Linked DNA regions of Homo sapiens: region 1 is linked to region 2. A link means that fine-mapping ties the variant in region 2 to the expression of a gene that starts in the linked region. Tissue or cell type: fibroblasts. Region 2 holds a variant in brackets; the other region holds the start of a gene. All regions are shown on one strand. Distances are from middle to middle. Region 1 holds the start of IPO5 (importin 5). Region 2 has its middle 51 kb from the start of IPO5.

The links.
Region 1: it holds the start of IPO5, and the variant in region 2 is fine-mapped to the expression of IPO5 in fibroblasts (GTEx, PIP above 0.99). The same link has a PIP of 0.9 or more in nasal epithelium.

What each region holds. Positions count from the first base shown.
Region 1 is chr13:97,950,186-97,961,956 of GRCh38, forward strand. IPO5 (importin 5) reads left to right here and starts at 3,490. Exons shown (of 29, transcript NM_002271.6): 1 at 3,490-3,531; 2 at 3,934-4,013.
Region 2 is chr13:97,896,469-97,908,511 of GRCh38, forward strand. It overlaps the pseudogene RPL7AP61. Among named protein-coding and RNA genes, the nearest start is that of IPO5, 51 kb to the right of the region's middle. The variant A/G (reference allele first, on the strand shown) is at 6,617.

The sequences.
Region 1 (11,771 bases), 54 kb after region 2:
GCTTGAACCCTGGAGGAGGAGGTTGCAGTTAGCTGAGATCACACCACTGCACTCCAGCCTGGGCGACAGAGCAAGACTTTGTCTCAGGAAAAAAAAAAAAAAAAAGTATCCCTGCACAAGCTCTCTTCTCCTGTCTGCCGCCATGTGAGATGTGCCTTTCACCTTCCGCCATGTTTGTGAGGCCTCCCCAGCCATGTGGAATCATAAGCCCAACAAACCTCTTCCTTTTGTAAGTTGCCCAGTCTTGGGTATGTCTTTATCATCACTGTGAAAACGGACTAATAAAGCCACAATGCAAAATATCCACCATAGTGCTCTCTATATGTGACTTTCTAGCCTACCCTTATCCACCATGGTGATTCCTATTCAGTATTCCACTGGTTGTGCCTGCTGATGAAGAAATCAATGTATATTCCCCTAAATCCTGTCTTTGGTGTAGGTTTGGAATGCCCAAGGATCAGCCAGTGCAGTCAGGTCTGCTGGCACCTTCCAAAAAACCAAGTGATATGGTTTGCCTGTGTCCCCACCCAAATTTCATCTTGAATTGTAGCTCCCATAATTCCCGTGTGTTGTGAAAGGGACCCGGTAGGAGATATTTGAACCATGGGGGCAGTTTCCCTCATACTGTTCTTGTGGTAGTGAATAAGCCTCACGAGATCTGACGATTTTATAAGAGGTTTCTCCTTTCACTTGGTTCTCATTCTCTCTTGCCTGCCACCATGTAAGATGTATCTTTTGCTTTCCACCATGACTATGAGGCCTCCCCAGCCACATGGAACTGTGAGTCCATTAAACCTCTTTTTCTTTATAAATTACCCAGTCTCAGGTATGTCTTTTTTTTTTTCTTTTTTTTTTTTGAGACCAAGTCTTGCTCTGTCACCCAGGCTGGAGTACAGTGGCACAATCTCGGCTCACTGCAACCTCCACCTCCTGGGTTCAGTGATTCTCCTGCCTCAGCCTCCCAAGTAGCTGGGACTACAGGCACCCACGACCATGCCCAGCTAATTTTTCTATTTTTAGTAGAGACAGGGTTTTGCCATGTTGGCCAGGGTGGTCTCGAACTCCTGACCTCAGCCTCCCAAAGTGCTAGGATTAGAGGCATGAGCCACTGTGCCCAGCCACGGTCTTTATCAGCAGCATGAAAACAGACTAATACACCAAGCAACTGGTCAATGTCATAGGCACTGGAGAAACTTCTCGGATTTGTTCTTTTAAAATGTTCTTCAGGAAGGGCACAATGGCTCACCCCTGTAATCCCAGCACTTTGGGAGGCCAAGGTGCTCCCAGCTCACTTGAGGCCAGGAGTTCAAGATCAGCCTAGGCAACACAGTGAGACCCTCCCCCAACGTCTACAAACATTTTTTTAGAACATTAACCAAGTATGGTGGGGCATGCAGTGAGCCATGATTGCATCACTGGACTCCAGGGTGGGTAACAGTGCAAGACTGTCTCTAAAAAAAGAACTAAAAAATAAACAAATACGTAACTAAATAAAATGTTCTTCATACATTTTGCAGTAACCTTGTAACCATTCAATCGCTGATTCTGAATCTATGTAAATTCTGGTATCAGACCCTTGGTAAGATGCTTGAGCAAAATGCCATGAAGACACCTGCCCACAAGCCAAAATGTTAGAAGTCAGGTGCAGTAGCGAGCTCCTGCAGTCCCAACCACTTGGGAGGCTGAGGCAGGAGGATCTCTTGAGCCCATAGTTCGAGACCAGCCTGGGTAACATAATGAGACCCCTGTCTCAAAAACAAAAAAAGAACCAGTGACATAGGATGAGGACGAAGAAGCAAGGAATAGTGCTGAAGAACTTTCAGGATATGCGGGGTGACACTAGAAAGTGCTTAGACATCACACGTTACCAAGAAAAAAATGTGACCTATACAAAGGAGTCTGCCCATGTCCTATGAAACAATTTAAAAATCAAAAATAGGCCGGGTGCGTTGGCTCATGCCTGTAATCCCAGCACTTTGGGAGGCCAAGGTGGGCAGATTACGAAGTCAGGAGATCGAGACCATCCTGGCTAACATGGTGAAACCCCGTCTCTACTAAAAATATAAAAATTAGCCGAGCATGGTGGCGCGTGCCTGTAATCCCAGCTACTTGGGAGGCTGAGGCAGAAGAATCGCTTGAACCAGAGAGGCAGAGGTTGCAGTGAGCTGAGATCACACCAGCCTGGGCAACAGAGAGAGACTCTGTATCAAAAAAAAAAGAAATAAATAATTACAAAAATGGAGTTTGGCTTTAATTAATGATCTGAATTAATAAAAACAACAAAATGCTAGGCCAGCGCAGGGGATCATGCCTGTAATCCCAGCACTTTGAGAGGCCGAGGCAGATGGATCACTTGAGGTCAGGAGTTCAAGACCAGCCTGGCCAACGTGGTGAAACCCCATCTGTACTAAAATACAAAAATTATTCGGGCATGGTGGTGGGCACCTGTAATCCCAGCTACTTGGGAGGCTGAGGCAGGAGAATTTCTTGAACCCGGGAGGTGGAGGTTGCAGTGAGCCGAGATCACGCCACTGCACTCCAGCCTGGGCAACAGAGTGAGAATCTGTCTCAAAAAAAAAAGAAAAGCTAAATGTACAAAGCTAGGGCATTGAGATCCATGAGAATACAGGGCAAAATTGATGTTAATCTGTCATATAAAAATTTAATTACATCCCATAAATATCTGCAATTTTTTATTGTTTATTTTTTGAGACAAGGTCTCACTCTGTTGCCCAGGCTGGAGTGCAGTGGTGCAATCACAGCTCACTGCAGCTTCAACCTCCCCCGGCTCAGATGATCCTCCCACTTCAGCTTCCTGAGCAGCTGGGACTACAGGTGTGCACTGCCACACGCATCTAATATTTGCATTTTTCATAGAGATGGGGTTTTGCCATGTTGCCAAGACTGGTCTTGAACTCCTGAGCTCAAATGATCCTCCCACCTCGGCCTCCCAAAGTGCTGGAATTACAGGCATGAGCCACCCCGCCCAGCCAATATTTATAATTATTACATGTCAACTAAAATAAAAGAAAAAGTAATTTAATCACAAACCCAGTTGACATAAACGTATGTAATATGGAATTTCCTGTTGTTTCCATACAAATTTATCTTTGTCTATTTGAGAGATCAATTTCTCTTTTCAGTATTGAGTAGTGAATAGAATCAAAATCTGTGGGTAAAGAAGCTACTCAGACAGTTTCAAAACTGAATTTGATGACACATTTGTACCCAATCTGAGTGGCCCCCAGCAACATGGGTTTTGAGTTCTCAAAGGCCAATAGATAGCTCCCTTTCCTTTCCACAGCTTTGGGAGCTTGGGCTACCCTGTAACGTCTAAATGCCTGTGCAGTGTGGGCCTGTGAAGCTGGCAGGGTGGGCAGTGTAAATGCCCACTAGCAGGAGCCAGCTGACCTCCTGCGTGTCACAATAGCAGCCAGGTGTCTCCACGGTGACGTCTCTGAGCCAGGAGGTCAGAACTGTGGGATTGATGACCTCCCACAACTGGAGCAGCCGGGAACAGCTCTGACCACAGTAAGTCATCCCAAAACCTCACATTCAGATGAAACCATTTAAGAATTTCATCTGCACTGAGGAACAATTTAGCGTGATACTGGAGGGAAAGAGTTTCCCTGTGAGATCCAGGAGGTCCCTTTAGCTCGTCTCCTGACGTCACCACAGTCATACCCAAGAGGAAGGAAACGTCAGAGACAATGATTTGGAGAACATTCTACACAAAAACCAAGTATGAAACAATGACGATTTCATGATGGCTCATTGTTCTTTGGTATTGTGCCTTACGTGAGCTGGGGACTAACTCTGTATCCTTAAGGAGGCATCACTTGATTAGAGTTGCCCAAAAGAATGTGGGTTATTATCCTAAAGGTCTGTGTTGCCATCCTGAAACAGTCAGAAATCAGTTTTTATTTCACTTAGGTGGTTCCGGGGAGAAGCCTTTCCAGGACCCATGTGTAGGCACAACTGTTTTCCCTGATCAGGATACTTGCGGCACTCAAGTGAGTCTAGAATTATCAGATTTTGTTCTGTCTCTCTTCACTGTGAATTCTATTCTTTATTTCCTTTAAAACAAAAAGCTCCTGCTATTTTCTCCTATAATTATGATATCTGTTTCTTGATCATTTTACCTTCTATTCACCAATTAATTGAAATCCAACCCATCAGGATTATCTACCCTGCTTTCCTATAGGGAGAATAAAAAGTGCTTAGAAGCAGTATGATTTTCACTGCCTTTAATTTCTCAAATCCCAAGATGTTCCATTTAAAATCTTTAGAGTATCTATTTTGTCTTCTGTACATTATGGTTGTATTCCCTCAGAGGCCGAGTATATTTTATCTTAGTTTTCAGAGATCACTAAAGTCAAGTAAATGAAGGAAAACAGAATTCATTTTCATTATGGGAAAACAAAATCAATCCCTAAGTAGTCAAAAGATTACTTACTTAAGGAACCACCTGGTTAACTTCTTCTCCTAGAACTTAATCCCCTAACTAGGGGTAAAAAAGGCTCATTGTCATCTTATAAAGTATTAGATACCAGGGACTTGTCAAATGCTAATGCCTTTATTATAGAATGTTTAATTTAGACCTTCCTAAACAGTTTTGCTTTCTTCCGTCATTTGTCTGTGATGGAACCTCAAAGACACTAACTAGTATGCGAGACAGATTTGTGTTGGAACATTGTGTTAGCTTTCCAGTAGAGTTAAAACTCTGGAATGCAATTATAAACCTCCAAATGAAAAATACCGGCCGGGCACAGTGGCTCACACCTATAATCCCAGCACTTTGGGAGGCTGAGGTGGGAGGATCACTTGGGCCTAGGAGTTTAAGGTCAGCCTAGGCAACATAGTGAGACCCTGTCTCTACAAAATATAGAAAAAAGTAGCCAGTTATGGCAGAATGCATCTGTAATTCCAGGGACTCAGGAGGCTGAGGTGAGAGGATTCCTTGAGCTGGGGAGGTCAAGACTGCAGTGAGCCATGACTGTGCCACTGCACTCCAGCCTGGGTGACAGAGTGGGACCCTATCACGAAAAAAAAAAAAGAAAAATACCTAAGTGGCCAAATACCTTATAAAGTTCATGCATGCTACTCTACAGGAAATATCCTCAGCTGTCTTCTCTGTGCTGAGTTCATATACTCTTGTGCCTAGTTCATACATGCTTGGTCATCTGCCTTCCAAAGCACACAGCAAACCAGATGATGAGAGCAGCTGACAAGTGGAGACAGTTGTCATTTTATGTTGGCAGCTACAATAAATGACACTGTCTGATGGAGAAAATGAGCGGGGAAAACACTTCCAAAACACAGGCAGAAATATAAGAGTTGAAATCCCAGAGTTCCAGAACAATTTCACCTCAGGGCAAGCAAGCCTAAGTGGCCTGTGTATCCACCACTCTACCACAACCCAGTGACATAACCGACTTGATGGTCCTCAGACGCCGGAGCTGGGAGGATCCCCTAGGGTGCTGCCCAACTCGCCCCAATTTACAGATGAGGAAATGGAGGCCTCAGGAAGCATTGACAGCCCAGTTCAGGATCACAGCTAGTTAAGGGGGAAGCTGCAACTACAGTCAGGATCCCCTCATCCCAAGGGCCAACTTCTATCCTATACGCCCCACTCTGGAAAGGTGAAAAATAATTCAGCATTTTGGCCAGGCGCAGTGGCTCATGCCTGTAATCCCAGCACTTTGGGAGGCCAAGGCAGGCGGATCACAAGGTCAGGAGACCAAGACCTTCCTGGCTTAACACGGTGAAACCCCGTCTCTACTAAAAATACAAAAAATTAGCCGGGCGTGGTGGCGGGCACCTGTGGTCCCAGCTACTCTGGAGGCTGAGGCGAGACAATGGCGTGAACCCGGGAGGTGGAGCTTGCAGTGAGCCAAGATCGCGCCACTGCACTCCAGCCTGGGCGACAGTGCGAGACTCCGTGTCAAAAAAAAAAAAACGAACAAAAAAAGTAAAAAATAAAAATAATAATAATTCAGTGTTTCAAAAGGTTTCAAAAGGCCAGTAAGGAATTAATACATGTTTAAAGAATTTTCTTGACAAAATGGTTGAAGGCTCATTGGTTACATTTGAGAATTAAATAAGATAAAGCATAGAAGGTTATCCCTCAAACACAGAAAGAAATCAAAATGTTGTCAGTTATTATTATAACTTAAAAATCTGATATATAAAAAAGTGCTTTTTTACAGAAGTCAGAAGAAAGTAGGTTGAGCATTTTTAATACTAATCTTTTAAATACCTTTGCTCTGCCAGAAAATTAATTTTCATAAAGCAATACATTGTTGGATCTCACCCTTAGGAAGGTCTTCCCTGGGCACCCTATTTTAACAGTACCCCATCACCTCTAGCTCTTTACTTTGATTTCGTATGCTTTATAACCTATTACCATATGAAACTAAAGATATGTATAAAATCTTTTCTCTAAAGCTTCTCCTAAAGTTCACAGCTAAAATACTATGATTTTCTTCTGGTTTTTAAATAGTCCTCTTGTTAGAAAAGATTTAGCCCTTATCCTCAATCTCACAGCCACTAAATAGTCAATTCACACAAGCCAAGTGATTTGTAAAATAGGAGTCTCTGCAAACTGAGTCCAACCAGCTTGAATAATAGCATCATAACATAATGGGATCCCTTTCTGGTGGTAGTGTCCGGGACCAAATACCAAAATTCCTATTTTAAGCTGTATTAAGATTTTCTAAATGTAGCTATGTTTCAAGAGAAAATGCTTGGTCTATGGATAGCTGAAGCCATGTAAAACAAGCATTCTTATCACATGGGTCCAATATCGCTGATTTTACATGGCAGATAGACCTTAAAACGCATTCCTACTTTTCCCACTCCCTCCCACATTCTTTAAAAGGGTAGGGTTTATTATCTCTCTGAATACTCAAATGAAAACTTAAGTGTATAAACAAAACTAGAAAAATCCTTAGATTAAGATGGGAGGAAGATGGTCTTTTGACCTCTTAATATTAGTTTGATCTAACATCTTTTTTTTTTTCTATTTTTTGAGACTGAGTCTCATTTTGTTGCCCAGGCTGGAGTGCAGTGGCGTGATCTCAGCTCACTGCAGCCTCCACCTCCCAGGTTCAAGCGATTCTCCCACCTCAGCCTCCTGAGTAGCTGGGACTACAGGCCTGCGCCACCATACCTGGCTAATTTTTTTTTTGTATTTTTTGTAGAGACAAGGTTTCACCATGTTGGCCAGGCTGGTCTCGAACTCCGACCTCAGGTGATCCACCTACCTCCCAAAGTCCTGGGATTACAGGCATGAGCCACCGCACTCAGCCTGATCTAAGTTCTTTAAATGATCATTCCATATTGTTAAACAATGTTTCTAAGTGAGAGGTAGAGAATTATATTAGTTGGTAGGAGGCCTAAATGCTTGAAGACAATTTAGAGAAAACTAGTTATTTCCTTGGCACAAAGTAAATCCTACTACTCCTGAAGTATAAGAAAAAATAAAAATAAAAACAATAAAAATAAACAATTCTTTGATCAAATAATTTTTTTAATTGACTTGTTCTGATCATTAGGGCCTACTTGTTCAGCCCACTATCCTTACATGCATTAGTGGATTCCTTCTCTTTTTTATCTCTGAAGATTTCAGAAGTAGATCAGTGGATTCCTTAAATGTTAAAGAAACCCTGTCTTCTGTAATCCCAGCTACTCTAGAGGCCGAGACAGCAGAATCGCTTGAACCCATGAGGTGGAGATTGCAGTGAGCCGAGATCGCACCACTGCACTCCAGCCTGGGTGACAGAGTGAGACAGAATGAGACTCTGTCTCAGAAAAAAAAGTAAAGAAAGAAACCCTTGCAATCAGAAAGAAAAAGAGAATTACAACTTAAAGTGACTAATGTTAAATATACTATTATATTTGGACTATATATAAACTAGAAACCTCCAGGGCCTGGCCTCAGGTGGAGTTGTCTTGCAGCTGATTGCTTGGCTCTCTTCTCTCTTCCCAACCTGATGTCATCCACTTCCACAACTTTAAATGCCATGAAAGTGATGGCTTGCCATTTCCAGCCCTGCCCTCTTCCTGGGCTCCATTGTCCCTCTATCCTCAGCCACGTGGCTGTTTCCTGTGTCCCACAAAAGTGCCACGAAGGAAACCCAGCTCTTCTCTCCAGACCTTACCCCAAACACCTCCTTCTCATCTTAATAGCATCATCAGTTGCTCAGTCACAAAACCTGGGCATTCTTGATCTCTCCCGACCTCACCCCCACCATCGGGAGAGGACTCATCAAGAAATTCCAGAAGCTTAAGTGTCAGGGACTCTCCTTTGCTCAGGACCCTCTATCTCATTTTGTGTTACCCCATTGCAGGGTCCTCTATCTCATTTTGTGTTTAGTTTTTATTTTTCTTATGGAAGGCCCTCAAACTGTATGATTTAGGCCTCACAAACCTTGGATCGGCCTCTGCACCCTCTGTCCAGCTCATTTCCAAAAGAAAACTATCTCAAAAAAAAAAAAGAAAGAAAGAGAAAAGAAAACCATCTAAAACCGACCACACAACAGTGAACACTGTTGATTGCTACCACCTCAGTCCAAGCCCCATCCCACCCCACCCCACACTGCAGCCAAGATGATCTTTGAAAGTTGAAAGCTTCTCAGGTCAGATCTCTTTCTTAACCCTCCACTAGATTCCCCTTTCCCCTAGGACAAGTCACACTACAAGAGGCAGGACACGGTGGCTCACACCTGTAACCCCAGCACTTTGGGAGGCTGAGGCAGGTAGATCACCTGAGGTCAGGAGTTCAAGACCAGCCTGGCCAACATGGTGAAACCTCGTCTCTACTAAAAATACAAAAATTAGCCAGACGTGGTGGCGGGCACCTGTAATCCCAGCTACTCGGGAGGCTGAGGCAAGAGAATTGCTTGAACCTAGGAGGCAGAGGTTGAAGTGAACTAAGATCACGCCACTGCACTCCAGCCTGGGTGACACAGCAAGACTGTGTCTCAAAAAAAAAAAAAGAGAGAGAACAAGTCACACTACAGAACCATCACAATGCCCTAGTAGCAGAACATGCTGCTGAACTATCAGGGTGCCCTGGGTGATCTGGCCTCTGCTGGCCTCTCAACCCTCTCAGCTTTAGCTATCCCCTTCTTTCCTTTCTGGAATACCCCAACTTGTTTTTGCCTCTGTCCTTCGTATTGTCACCTCTGCTTGAGAGAGCCTCCTCCATTTCTTTATTTGCCTCATCTTTCATTGTCACCTCCTCTCAAAAGACTGTCCCGGCAGGGCACGGTGGCTCACGCCTATAATCCCAGCACTTTGGGAGGCCGAGGCGGGTGGGTCACAAAGTCAGAAGTTCAAGACCAGCCTGGCCAACATGGTGAAACCCCGTCTCTACTAAAATACAAAAAACAAAAATTAACCGGGTGTGGTGGCGGGCGCCTATAGTCCCAGCTACTTAGGAGGCTGAGCCAGGAGAATTGCTTGAACCCGGGAGGCGTAGGTTGCAGTGAGCCTAGATAGCGCCACTGCACTCCAGCCGGGGTGACGGACTGGGACTCTGTCTCAAAGAAAAGAAAGACTGTGTCCCTAGGGTATGACCCCACTCCAAATCCAGTCATTCGTGATCCCATTATCTTCTTTTTTCACCTATAACTGTATGCAAGTATCTTATCAGTTTACTTGTTTATTATCTGAATTCTTTCAAAAGAGCTAAGCTCCCTGAAGGTGGGAACCCTGTCCGCATGCTCACCGTGGAATCCCCACAGCCTAGCAGCACCTCCCACAGAGGGGTGCCTAATATTTTTCTAAACAAATGAATGAAGAAAATGTTCATTAAACAAATACTACTGCAGTTAAATGTGGCATCAAGCAGTACTACACATAGGATGCATGGAATTGAAGCCTATGAACCATTATAAGGTCCCTTTCATTTGTTCCTCATTAACTGTGGATGACTAAAAATCCATGCTGCCAATAGCTCCAACTATGAGATGCAGATCGATGTCACAATTCAGACTCCATTATGTATGTCCTCACAATGCAGGAGGTGAAATGTGTATGTCATGTGTCCAAATTGTAAGATACTTGCTGTAAGTAGCAAAAAGATGGGAAGGAAAGTCTACAGACCAAATCATATCTGAATCTCCCCATTCTCCCTCTCCACAAATATTGGTTTAGGAATTCTCCGAAGTTTGAAGGTTATGAATGGTTATCACTCAAGGATTCAGAACTAAGGTAAAAATACTGTGAATGATAGGGGGAAAAAATCACTAATTGAGGTCTAAATCAATATCCTTCAGCTCTCTAAGGAAATGTATTTTTAATATAATAGCTTTATTGAGACATTCATACACCATAAAGTCCAAATTTTACTTTTTATTTTATTTATTTGGTTTTTTTTTTTTTTGAGATGGAGTTTCACCCTTGTCACCCAGGCTGGAGTGCAATGGCATGATCTCGGCTCACTGCAACCTCCACCTCCTGGGTTCAAGCAATTCTCCTGCCTCAGCCTCTTGAGTAGCTGGGATTACAGTCGCGCACCACTACGCCCAGCTAACTTTTGTACTTTCAGTAGAGACAGCGTTTCACCATGTTGGTCAAGCTGGTCTCGAACTCCTGACCTCAGGTGATCCACTCGCCTGAGCCTCCCAAAGTGCTGGGATTACAGGCATGAGCCACCTCACCCAGCCTAAAGTTCAACCTTCTAAAGTGTACAATGGAGTGTTTAGTATATTCAGTGGGCTGCACATTCATCACTATCACCCTTTCCTCACCCTAAAAGAAAACTCCATACCTGCTAGCACTCACTGATTCCCCTACCCACCCCATGCCCAGGCACATGGCAAGCACCAATCTACTGTCTATGGATGTGCTGATTCTGGACATTTCCCATAAGTGGGACCAAAAAAATGTGTGGTCTTTTTGTCTGATTTCCTTCAGGCAGTCTAATGAGTTTAAGGTTCACTCATGTTGTTACATGTATCATTACTTTATTCTTTTATTGCGAAGTAATATTTCCTTGTATAGTTAGAAGACATTTTGTTTATCCATTCACCAGTGGATGGACAGTTGAATTGTTTCCACTTTTTGGCTGTGGTGAATAATGTTGCCATGAACATTCATGTACAAGTTTTTGTGTCAACATATGTTGTCTTTTCTCTTGCACATATACCTAGGAGTGAAATTACTGAGTCAAATGGTAACTCAGGCTGGAGTGCAATGGCACGATCTCGGCTCAACGCAACCTCTGCCTCCCAGGTTCAAGTGATTCTCATGCCTCAGCCTCTCGAGTAACTGGAATTACAGGCATGCGTCACCACACCCAGCTTATTCAGACTGTTTTCCAAATTGGCTGTAACATTTTATGTTCCTATTAGCAAAGTATGAGCGTTTGAATTTCTCCACATTCTTGTCAACACTTGCTGTTGCCTTTTTTATTAAAGCCATTTTATTGGGTATGAAGTGGTAACTTACATTGTGGTTTTGATTTGCATTTCTCTAATGATGAATGATGTTGCACATCTTTTCATGTGCTTATTGGCCATTTGTATATTTTCTCTGGAGAAATGTCTATTCAAATGTTTTACCCATTTTTTTAATTGGGTTGTCTTTTTTTAATTGAGAGTAGGGCTTTTTAAATATTCTGGATATAAGTCCCTTATAAGACATATGATTTGTGGCCAGGCGCAGTGGCTCACACCTGTAATCCCAGCACTTTGGGAGACCAAAGTGAGTGGATCACTTGAGGTCAGGAGTTCAAGACCAGCCTGGCCAACACGGCAAAACCC
Region 2 (12,043 bases):
CTATTCCCTTGAAGTTTTTAGTTTGGAGAATTACCTGATGTACTCAGTGAGAATACATTTCTAAGACAAAAACAGTTAGATATTTTAAAAATATGATGCAAAGCATAATGCAGTTAAATCTATTTTTGGTGTCTGTTTTTCATTTTTGTTGTGTAACATTGAACAGTCTTTTCCTTTCCAGATCCCTCTGAGCTATAGTTTGGCCACTTATAAAAAGGTTGAGAATTTTCCCTGCCTCATTTGAGCCATAAGAATATATGAACAAAACCAAAAAGGTTGAGAATTTTCCCTGCCTCATTTGGGCCATAAGAATTTATGAACGAAACCCTGCCGGCACTTAAAAATATTGAACACTCTTAAATATTTTAAATGCTTCATATGGTATTCCACACGAGATGAGCCCATGCACTAGATGTATCTGTGGGACCCTTTATATTTAACCATATCCCTTTTCTTGCAAACATTTCTCCTTATTTAACTTCTGTCTTTTGAATGTATACTGTATTCTGAAACATAAATGCTTAAAATGAAGTTTCTAACAATTTATTCAAGTCACTGATACACCTTTAGTGGTTTCTTGAGCTTGAGCTTCACTCCTGGAATGAAATTTATGTTGAATGCTGTTTTCATCTGTTTGGAATGCTATAACAAAGTGCCATAAACTGAATGGCTTATAAACAACAAAAATTTATTTCTCACATATGGAGGTTGTGAAGTCCAAAGTCGAGGAACCAGTAGATTTTAAGCTTGGTGAAGGTCTGTTTCCTGGTTCATAGATGGTGTCTCCTGTCTGCATCTTCTCTTGGTGGAGGGGGCCCAGCTCTCTGGGGCCTCTTTTATAAAGGCAATAATCTCATTATAAAGGCTCTACCCTCGTGACCTAATCACCTCCCAAAAGTCCCACCTTCTAATACCATCATCTTGGGTGTTAGAACTTCAACATATGAATTCTCAGGGGTCTCAAACATTCAGACTATAGCAAATGGAGTTCCAAAGAGATACCTCAAATTTCAAATTGTAGATCATTATTATCTGTGCAGTTTATTTTTTATTGTATTGTATTTTCTACCTTTTTAATAAAAGCCATTTAACTGGGGTGAGATGGTATCTCATTGTAGCTTTGATCTGCATTTCCCTGATGATTAGTGATATTGAACATTTCTTCATATACCTTTTGGCCATTTGTATGTCTTCTTTTGAAAAATGTCTGTTTGGATCTTTTGCCCATTTTTACTTTAGATTATTTGGCATTTTTGCTATTGAGTTGTTTGAGTTCCTTCTATATTCTGGTTATTAATCCCTAGACAGATGAGTAGTTTCCAAATATTTTCTCCTATTCTGTGGTGTATTAGTCTGTTTTCACACCACTATAAAGATACTATCCAAGTCTGGGTAATTTATAAACAAAAGAGGTTTAATTGACTCACAGTTCCACATCGTTGGAGAGGTCTCAAGAAACTTACAATTATGGAGGAAGGAGAAGCTGGCACATCTTACGTGGCAGCAGGCAACAGAGACAGTGTGAGAGAGGAACTCTCAAACACAAAACCATCAGATCACGTGAGAACCGTCAAACACGTATAAAATCATCAGATCTAATGAGAACTGTCAAACACTTATAAAACCATCAGACCTCATGAGAACTCACTCACTAAACAGCATGGGGGAAATAGCCCCCATGATCCAATCGCCTCCCACCAGGTTCCTCCCTCAACACCTGGGGATTACAATTCAAGATCAGATTTGGGCAGGGACACAAAGCCAAACCATATCACGTGGGTTGTCTTTTTACTTTATTGTTTCCTTTGCCATACAGAAGTTTTTTAGCTTGATGTAATCCCATTTGTCTATTTTTGTTTGGTTGTCTCTGCTGTTGAGGTCTTGCACAAAGAATATTTTCCCAGACTAATGTCTGAGACCATTTCCTCAATGTTTTCTTCTAGTAGTTTCACAGATTCCTGTCTTAGATTTAAATATTTAACTCATTTTTGGGCTGGATGCAGTGGTTCACACCTGTAATCCTAGCACTTTGGGAGGCCAAGGTGGTAGGATCACTTGAGCCCAGGAGCTCAAGACCAGCCTGGACAACACAGTGAAACTCCATCTCTACTAAAATACAAAAAAAAATTAGCCAGGCGTGGCAGCGGGTGCCTGTAGTCCCAGCTACTCGGGAGGTTGAGGCAGGAGAATCACTTGAACCCTGGAGGCAGACGTTGCAGTGAGCCAAGATCACACCACTGCACTCCAGCCTGAGCAACAGAGCGAGACTCTGTCTCCAAAAAATAATAATAATAATAATAATAAAAAATATTTAACTCCTTTTCAATTGATTTTTTTATACAGTGAGATGAGGTCTAGTTTCATTATTCTGCATATGGAAATCCAGTTTTCCCAGCCCCACTTATTAAAGAGACTGTCCTTTCCCCCATTGTATATTCTGGGTACCTCTGTGAAAAATGAGTTGGCTATAAGTGTGTGGATTTATATCTGGGTTCTCTATTCTGTTACATTTGTCTATGTGTCAGATTTTATGCCAGTACTATGCTGATTTGGTTACTATAACTTGGTAGTATATTTTGAAGTCAGGTAGTATGATGTCTCTAGCTTTATTCTTTTTGCTCAGGGTTGTTTTGGCTATTCAAGGTCTTTTGTGGTTCCATATAAATTTTAGGACTCTTTTTTCTATTTCTGTGAAGAAGATCAGTGGTATTTTGATAGGGATTGCATTGAATCTGTAAATTTTATTGGGTAGAATTGTCATTTTAATAATATTAAGTCTTCCAATCCATGAGCATGGAATATATTCCCAGTTTTCATGTGTCCTCTTCAATTTCTTTCATCAATATTTGATCATTTTCCTTGTATAGATTTTTCATTTCTTTGGTTAATTTCATTGCTAGATATTGTGCAGTTTAGATAGCTTTATGGATTTGATAAGAAGTTTGTCTTGTTACCACGTCATTGTGTACTATGGACTTGCCCCTTCAGGGTCTGCCCAGAACGTTCTCAAGCCCAGGAATCCCTTTCAGAATCCAGCTCCACCATTCCAGGAAGGGGGAAGAGTGAGGAAGCCTCACTTCTGCAGATGTTCTCTGCCGATTTGGGGGTGGGTATGTGCATACTGACTGCAGTGACCTCACCCACAGATGGGCTAACCAAGCTATAACTGTTTATTAGAAACTAGAATGGTTCCATGAATATGTCATTCACCATTTCTTTAGTAAATTCAGTTTACATCATCATCTGCCTACAAGATAAAGAATACTTTATGCGTAGTATCAGCTCACTACAACCTCTGCCTCCTGGGTTCAAGCGATTCTCATGCCTTATCCTCCCTAGTAGCTGGGATTACAGTGACCAGTTTTCTTAATGAAGTATTTTTCCTACTGGGAAAAAGAAAACCAAGAAAGCTTTCCCTCCACAATTGGTGGGGAGGACGCTCATGTTCTGGCCTTTCTCCACTTTCCTACCTGGCATTCGTCATTCTTGGAACCTCCCGCCCCTTCTTCTGCGTCACTGCTGTTTCTGTGAGCATTATAAGCTTGCAGTTAATTCACCATATGACCTAAAGTCAGAATAATGACATATGGAATTTCAGGCTGATTTGCTGTACAAAGAGATCTAAGCATATGCCTCTTGAGAACAGGCATTGCTGTTACACAGCACCGTGAACACATCCATACTGGATTAATTTGGAATTTGCAAAGTTTAAAAAGAAACCTCTCAAGAACTATGACCATGATTATAAAAGTCAGACCACCAGACTATGATCTGTATCCAAGGAATGGTACTGAAGATTTTCAACCCCACTGAGCCTGTTATACGGATGGCTAACAGAGTCTGGGCTGAAGAAGAGATGTATACATTATCTTTTTTCTGTAGGTTTCTCAGACACCACCTGGGCAGCTGACCTATTTCACTGTCAGAAGCAATGACATGAGTCTCATATGTGATACTTTTCCAACAATTCTAAGCTTCAAAATAAACAATTTTGAAAACCTGCAGCTCAGCACTTGGCATTTCACCAGAACTTTCCCAACTCCCCAAAGCCAAATCTGTTTTTTTATTCTACCATGGAGTGCCTCGTTTATCTTTCCCAGGAGAAAATGTAAAAAAAAAAAACCACCTACAGAATTTGGTTTGGAGGGTATATAATGAACAGATAAAATGATCCTAGAACAGTAGTCCCTTAAAAAAGTTATATCAGGCCTAGATTCTTCTAGGAATATGTATATATAAATAATAATAATCTAGTATCCCAATTTTTATTCTCTTTGATCTCATTAGTAGATTTCTCAAATACCAGGTAAGAGAGAGCAACCCACATAAAATAGACAAACAAAAGACAGCATGTATTTTAGAATAATTACAGAGTTCCGAGTATAAATATCCTAGTGTTGCTAATATCATACTTTCTAATCAACAGAGGACATAAAGATTTAATGCTGTCTTTATAGCACATGAAAAATTTATTTTTGCTTACTGAGGAAAGAAGTATAAAAATTGATTTGATACAGTCCATTTTTAAAAAAAAAGATAAGTCTTTACTATGGAGGAAAATAAAACCTCAATGTTTGGTCATATTTACATATGTTGACTTCTAGAAGTACAGATTTAGACTGACCTTGAATGGCCAGATTTATTTCTGTAAGGCGAATCTGGAAAACTTCTCTACAAATGTAAACCATCAGGGAAACGGGTGGCATCAGGCCTGACAGGGGCTTGTTGATTTTAAATATGGCACATGTGTTATTTTAACCAAAATTTAAAATGCTATCAAAATGTTTTAAAATGTTCAAATCAAAGCTGAATTATTATTTCCAGGCTGAGCACAGTGGCTCATGCCTGTAATCCCAGCACTTTGGGAAGCTGAGGCAGACAAATCACCTGAGGTCAGTAGTTTGAGATCAGCCTGGCCAACATGGTGAAACCTCGTCCCTACTAAAAATACAAAAATTAGCCAGGTGCATGTCTGTAATCTCGGCTACTCAGGAGGCTGAGGCGGAGAACTGTTTGAACTCAGGAGGCAGAGATTTCAGTAAACAAAGATCGCACCACTGCACTCCAGCCCAGGCAACAGAGTGAGACTCTGTCTTAAAAAAAAAAGAAAAGAAAAAAGAAAAGAAATTATTATCATTCCCGGTTAGGCCTACAAAATGGGATGCAATAATCACCCCTGTCTGCTTGTCAAATGCAGCTGTTACATCCAGCTGTGGTGGCAAAGAGTCTTCCTTTATAAGTGTTTGAAAGCATCCCCTGAGATGAACCAGCTCACTCAGACATTGGCCAGTCAAACAGCTACTGAATTGCTTAAAGTGGCCAACTACATTCAGGCACAGAGCAAGAAAAGCAGAGAGCTGCCAGAAAAGGGGTATCCCCACTGAGACTGCCGGTCCTTTAAGCAGGTGTTTATAAAGTCACCACCTTGGTGGAGAACAACAAGGCTCACCTGGGGATGACTGCACATGTGTGGATTCCACTGAGCTGGTTGTTCTTCCTGCTGCCTTGGGCTCTAAAATGGGAGTCTCCTAGTTCATTATCAAGAGAAAAGCCAGACTGGTGGGATGTTTCCTCCACAGAAAGACCTGCACCACCATTGCCTTTACACAGGTTAACTCAGAAGACAAAGGAGTCCTAGCTAAGCTGGTGGAAACTACCAGGACCAATTACAATGACAGACATGACAAGATCTGCTATCATTGGGGATAACATTCTATCAAATTTATGGCTCTCATTGCTAAGCTCAAAAAGCAAGGCTAAAGAACTTGTCGCCAAACTGGGATAAAGGTTTAATGTTACCTTTACTGTACATAAAAATAAAAATTAACCTTCAAACATATTAATCTCATTAAAATACCTTTATTCTCCAAATTTGCATTGTACTATAGCCTAGAACGCACAGACTCATTTACTATTTACAGCTCGTGATCTCCCCAAGCCAATGAAATATTCTTTGTCCCTCTACCTTATATTTTAATTTCTTGGGTGCCTGTCCTTGCTCTCCTAATAGATAGACTGCAAGCTTATAGAAGAAAAGAAGTGTATGTTTCTTCTCCTTGGACTGACTTGATTTAGGTCTAAGATCGCTTTATTGTTGTTGCTTACATTCTTACAGCTCCCAGCACAGTTCTGCACACATGGAAACAGTACAGAGGCCAATGAGCGATGCACAATAGGGCCCCTGGGAACTCAACCGTGCACCCACATCTACAGCACATATCAGTCTCTCTGCTTCTGGGGATTATCTACACACTGCAAGTGGTAAATTGGTTAGTAGTTACCAATTCTGTCACAATCGAATGTTTGTGCTCCTCTAAAATTCATGTTGAAACTTAGTTTCCAATGTAATAATATTAAGATGTAGGGCCTTAAGGAGGTGATTTGCTCATAAGGGCATCTCCCTCTTGAATGGGATTAAGGCATTTATCAAAGAAGCTTCACCAGGATTCTGCCCTTTTTGCCCCTGCACCTTCTGCCATATGAGGACACAGTCACAAGGTGCCATCATGCAAGCAGACAGCACAGCCCCTACTAGACACCAAGTCTGCTGGCACCTTGATCTTGGACTTCCCAGCCTCCAGAACTGTAAGAAATAAATTTCTATTCTTTATGAATG[A/G]CCCAGCCTCTGGTATTTTGTTATAGCAGTGCAAATGGACAAACACATACAAAATACCAGAGCCTGGGTAATTTATAAAGAACAGAAATTTATAACTATGGATAAAAGTCAGTATAACACTAGCCCATGCTGTGGTAACAAATAGACACCCAAATCTCACTGGGGTGTCACAGCACAAGTCAACTTCCACTATTCACAAAATGTCTAGTGCAGGTAAAGAGCTCTCCAGGGATGTTTTTTTGATGTAATGACTAAAGATAGAGGCTGCTTCCGTTGTGTGGCTCCTCCATGTCAAAATGGTCACACAAAAGAAGAAGATGATGAAAAGCCTATGCCTGTTTTTAACTGTCTCAGTCCAAAAGTGACAAAAATTCATTTTTCTCATGGCCCATCAGCCTGATCTAGATACATGGCCCCAGTTCAACTATGAGTGAGATGAAGAACTAGGGGAGCCCATGGAATATTTAGTGAACATTACTGTCTCAAGCATACAACCAATTTTTTTTTTTTGAGACAGAATCTCACTCTGTCACCTAGGCTGGAGTGCAGTGGCTTGATCTCAGCTCACTACAACCTCCGCCTCCTAGGTTCAAGTAATTCTCCTTCCTCAGTCTCCCAAGTAGCTGGGATTACAGGTGCATGCCACCATATCTGGCTAAGTTTTGTATTTTTAGTAGAGACAGGGTTTCACCATGCTGGCCAGGCTGGTCTCGAACTCCTGACCTCAAGTAATCTGCCTACCTTGGCCTCTCAAAATGCTGGGATTATAGGCGTGAGCCACCATGCCTGGCCACAACCAAATTTTTTTAATGGAACCAGAGGACCAGTTACAGAATGCCACTTGTATAGTGATACAGCTATACCAACAAGGCACATAACAATATATTTTATTGTGTAAATTAATTAAGAGCTCCACATATTTATATTAAAATAAAATCCCTATTCATGCAATTGATCTTTATCATTTTCAAGGAAAGCAAGTCCTGTAAAGAAAGTGTGTTTTTATTTCGTACAAAGCAATGAGGTGTTATGACTTGGCTTTGGAAGAAAGTTCTTAAAATAATACATCAGGCTCATCTGTTGAGGCCGTCCCTTCTGCTGCAGCTTGCTATTGCCCAGTTTTCTATCTCTTATAATAGTAACCAGCTTTGAAGCCAAAATAAACTCTCTAGTTCTCTAGAACACCCCATCTGCCTCATCCTTCAACACCAGGAGTCCTTCCAAAGCTCTTAATGGCTGAGGCAATGCATACTATAAATTAATTGTCATGTGGCTTCATTCCATCAAGGCTAAAAAGATGTGCCCATTTCATCATTGTTGCAAGAATAAAGTTTTTAATTTCACACAGCAATCTTTCCCAGATCACTAGCTTAAAGACTATCTTTGGTATGGTAAATGAAATAGTCATTCCGCACGTGAAAAATAATCTGAGACTCTAAAAACATTCCATTGGGATCAAAATAATATCAAAAAAGAATGGTCACAAAAATGTTTTACCTCCATTAACAAAGGCATCTATTCTATTTGTTAGCACACAATCATAATTTCGTTATAGCCCTTTCTTTGTATCTCTAGGAAAATAATAAGAATTGCAAAGTGTAATTTTTGTAACTTATAAATAATGCTTTTACAAATTAGAATTCTGATAACCCCTTAAAGGTTATGACCCCCAAAACTTATAAAAATTACATTGGGCTGGGCACGGTGGCTCACACCTGCAATCCCAGCACTTTGGGAGGCTGAGGCAGGCAGATCACCTGAGGTCAAGAGTTTGAGACCAGCCTGCCCAACACAGTGAAACCCCGTCTCTACTAAAAATACAAAAATCAGCCGGGCATAGTGGTGGACGCCTGTAATCCCAACTATTCGGGAGGCCGAGGCAGGAGAATCACTTGAACCTGGGAGGCAGAAGTTGCAGTGAGTTGAGATCGCACCACTGAACTCCAGCCTGGGCAACAAGAGCAAAATTCTGTCTCAAAAAAAAAATTGCATTGACTTTCTCTCAAAACTAGAAAAGTTTTGAAGTATGAAGTTAAAAATATAATTGGAAGATGACATATAGTCAACTCTCCTTACTCTTATGAGTTCTCCCTAGAGATACAAATGGAACTTTGGTTCTTCTAGTATCTCTCCCATGTGTTACATCATGGCATCATATTCAAATCAAAGAACTAGAACTGGGAAGTGCCAGCAGCTAGCAATAGATACCAAAATAGCTTCTCTTTTTCAAATTTTTACAATCACTAACATTGAGAAATGGTTACCCAGTACAGAGTTAGGTGAAAACACGTACACACATATATAGACATTTATTTAATTACATGTATACCCTACCACAAATATCTATGTGGTCTCTTGTCTTTTTACTAGATTCACTACAGTATAACATAAGATACTTTGGGCTGTGAATTGGAGAAAAGAAAATCCTTATTGTCTTAAATGATGGGGAAATTAATTGACTCACATAATCATTGAAGTCTGTAGCAGTGTTTCTCAAAATATCTGTGGACAGTTGTTCTTGAATTGATTTAATTTTTCAATTCAGTGCAGATTGCTACATGGTTATAAAGCACAAGATTTGTACACAGTTTGCACAACTTACAACTCATCCATTTGTTGGACAACACCCCAACTAGTCTAGAGCCTATTTGGCTAGATAAGTGCATTGACCACACACTTGGAGGCGATTGCAATATCAAATCCCTACAAAAATTCCTAAGCATGTCTCTCAATTTCTATGTCTATGTCATCATAGAATGGTAACAAACAGTTCCCAGACACCCTACATTTTGAGTGGCCCTGGTCTAGAGATAGGTTGGGCATTCACAAGGTTCTTGTTCCATCTCCCTGGCATTTTTTAAGTTTTCCTCCTTTGTGTGCCAGCTGCCTCCTCGGGCTGGAAGGAAGATGTGTGCAATGGTCCCAGTCTTAATATGTGACAACATCCAGAAGAGATAGGTCACTTCAAAGCAACAGCAAAAGAGCAAAGAAAACCTCTCCTGGGAGGCTCTAGCAAACTTTCTGCACATCTCATTGTCCTTAATTGGATCACGTGTCTATTCCCGAACTTATGACAGGCAAGAAAAAGGGGATTACTCTTGGAGCAATTGGGCCCCCTCCTGGAGCTAGGGGTGGGAATCCATCCTTGGGGCATGTGAGTTGCATAATAGAGAGTAGAGAGTGTGTTGCATTAAACATAAAATTGGGTTTATGTGGTAAACGTGGGAAGGAGGAATGGATGATAGGGAGACAATCAACAATGTTGGAAGTATTTTAACTAGGCTTTTGTATAATTATTAGTCAATCAAAGGATATTATTAAGTAGTCATTAATTTAGTAGCTTTGTATCGAACTTGGGCACACAGAAAGCCTGACTTACCCTAACATTTCCAGCACCTGAGGAAAGAATCCTATCGACCCTATGTTCTCCAATCATTGTGACCAAGAGAAAAGGATTTCACAGAACAATTCTGGCTGCTTAAGAGAGGAATTGGCAGGGTATCCTTATGGATTTGAGAGTGAGCAGTTACTAGGGAGGGGGAGGTCATGTGAACTGGGCAGATGCTTCAGAAAATGTCCCCACAATCATTTAAAAATTAACTCCATAACTCTCTCCTCCTTAAGTGTGAGTTTTGCACAGTGACCTCCTTTCAAAGAGTACAATGTGGAAGGGAGGGGAGAAACTTGATAGTGGAGAAATCTCACAAACAGCACTACAGCCAGGTGGTCAAATTCAAAATCAACAGTGATAGATCACGTTGATAGTATGTACCCTTGATGTGATATGATGACAATGGTACTTAGCATCTGTGGCCTTCCTCCCAATAACCCATTACCTCAGTCTAATCATGAAAATATCAGACATCCATGTGTGGGCAGGAAATGAAATAAAATATTTAAAAACTAAAAAATAAAATAACAAAAAAGAAAACATCAAACAAATCCCAGCTGATGGACGTTCTACAAAGTAACTGACCAATAATTCTCACAACTGTCAAGGTCATAAAAAAAGTCTGAAAAACTGTCACAATGAAGAGCACCCAAGGAAACGTGACAAATAAATGTAATGTAGTGTCCTGGATGTGTTCCTGAAAGATAAAAAGATAATTAGATAAAGACTAAAGGCACCTGAATTAAGTATGGGCTTCAGTTAATAATAATTTATCAATATTGGTTAATTAATTGTAGCTAATGTACCCTACAAATGTAAGATGTTAATAATGGGGAGATGGGAACTCTGTACTGTGGGCTTAAATTTTCTGTAAATCTAAACATACTCTAAAAAACAAAGTCTACAGCCTGGGCAACATGGCAAAACCCTGTCTCCACAAAAAATACAAAAGGCCAGGTGTGGTGGCACACACCTGTAGTTCCAGTGACTTGGGGGACTGAGATGGGAGAATCGTTTGAGACTAGGAGGTCAAGGCTGCAGTGAGCCGTGATCATGCCACTGCATTCCAGCCTGGACAACAGAGAAAGACCCTGTCTCAAAACAAAGTCTATTCATTTTTCTAAATTGCATGCTACTAAATAGGTGTTTAAAATTATTTTTTGATGGGTATAGAGTTTCAGTTTCAGATGAAGAAAAAGGTCTGGAGATGGATGGTGATGATGGTTGCATGACAATGTGAATGTAAGTAATGCTATAGAGCTAGTACACTAAAAATGGTTAAAATGGTAAATTAAGTATATTTTACCAAAATTTAAATGTATCTTAATAAAGTATACAATTATATTGGTGTTACTACCCAGTTTAATGACAGGTTTCATAGGTATGTGTTCTCTGTTCCGAAGGAATTCCAATATGTTGAGCATGAATATCAATGTAGAGTCCAACTATAAGTCAAAATCTCAGTAAGTTTTGGTTAGTGAAGGTGATATGATTTGGCTCTCTGTCCCCACCCAAATCTCATGTTGAATTGTAATTCCCAATGTTGAGGGAGGGACCTGGTGGGAGGTGATGGGATCATGGAGGCAGATTTCCCCCTTGCTGTTCTTGTGATAATGAGAGAGTTCTCACGAGATCTGATGGTTGAAGAGTGTGTGGCATTTCCCTCTCTCCTGTGCTCCCATGGTTTGATGTGCTTGGTTCCCCTTTGCCTTCTACCATGATTGTAAGTTTCCGGAGGCCTCCCAGTCATGCTTCCTGTTAAGCCTGCCCAACTGTGAGTTAATTAAACCTCTTTTCTTCATAAATTCCCCAGTCTCCGGTAGTTCTCTATAGCATTGTGAGAACAGACTAAAGCAGAAGGATGGGGAAACTTTCCAGAAAAGGTGTAACTTAAAATCCTTCTAGAAGAAAGGGAAGAATTTAGCTGAGAGGAATATGGGTGATATTTAATTTCACAACACTGGAAAGAATTAGGCTTCTAACTGATATTGGATTTCAATCTGCTTGAGGTCCACCACCCTGCACACTTTTGTAAG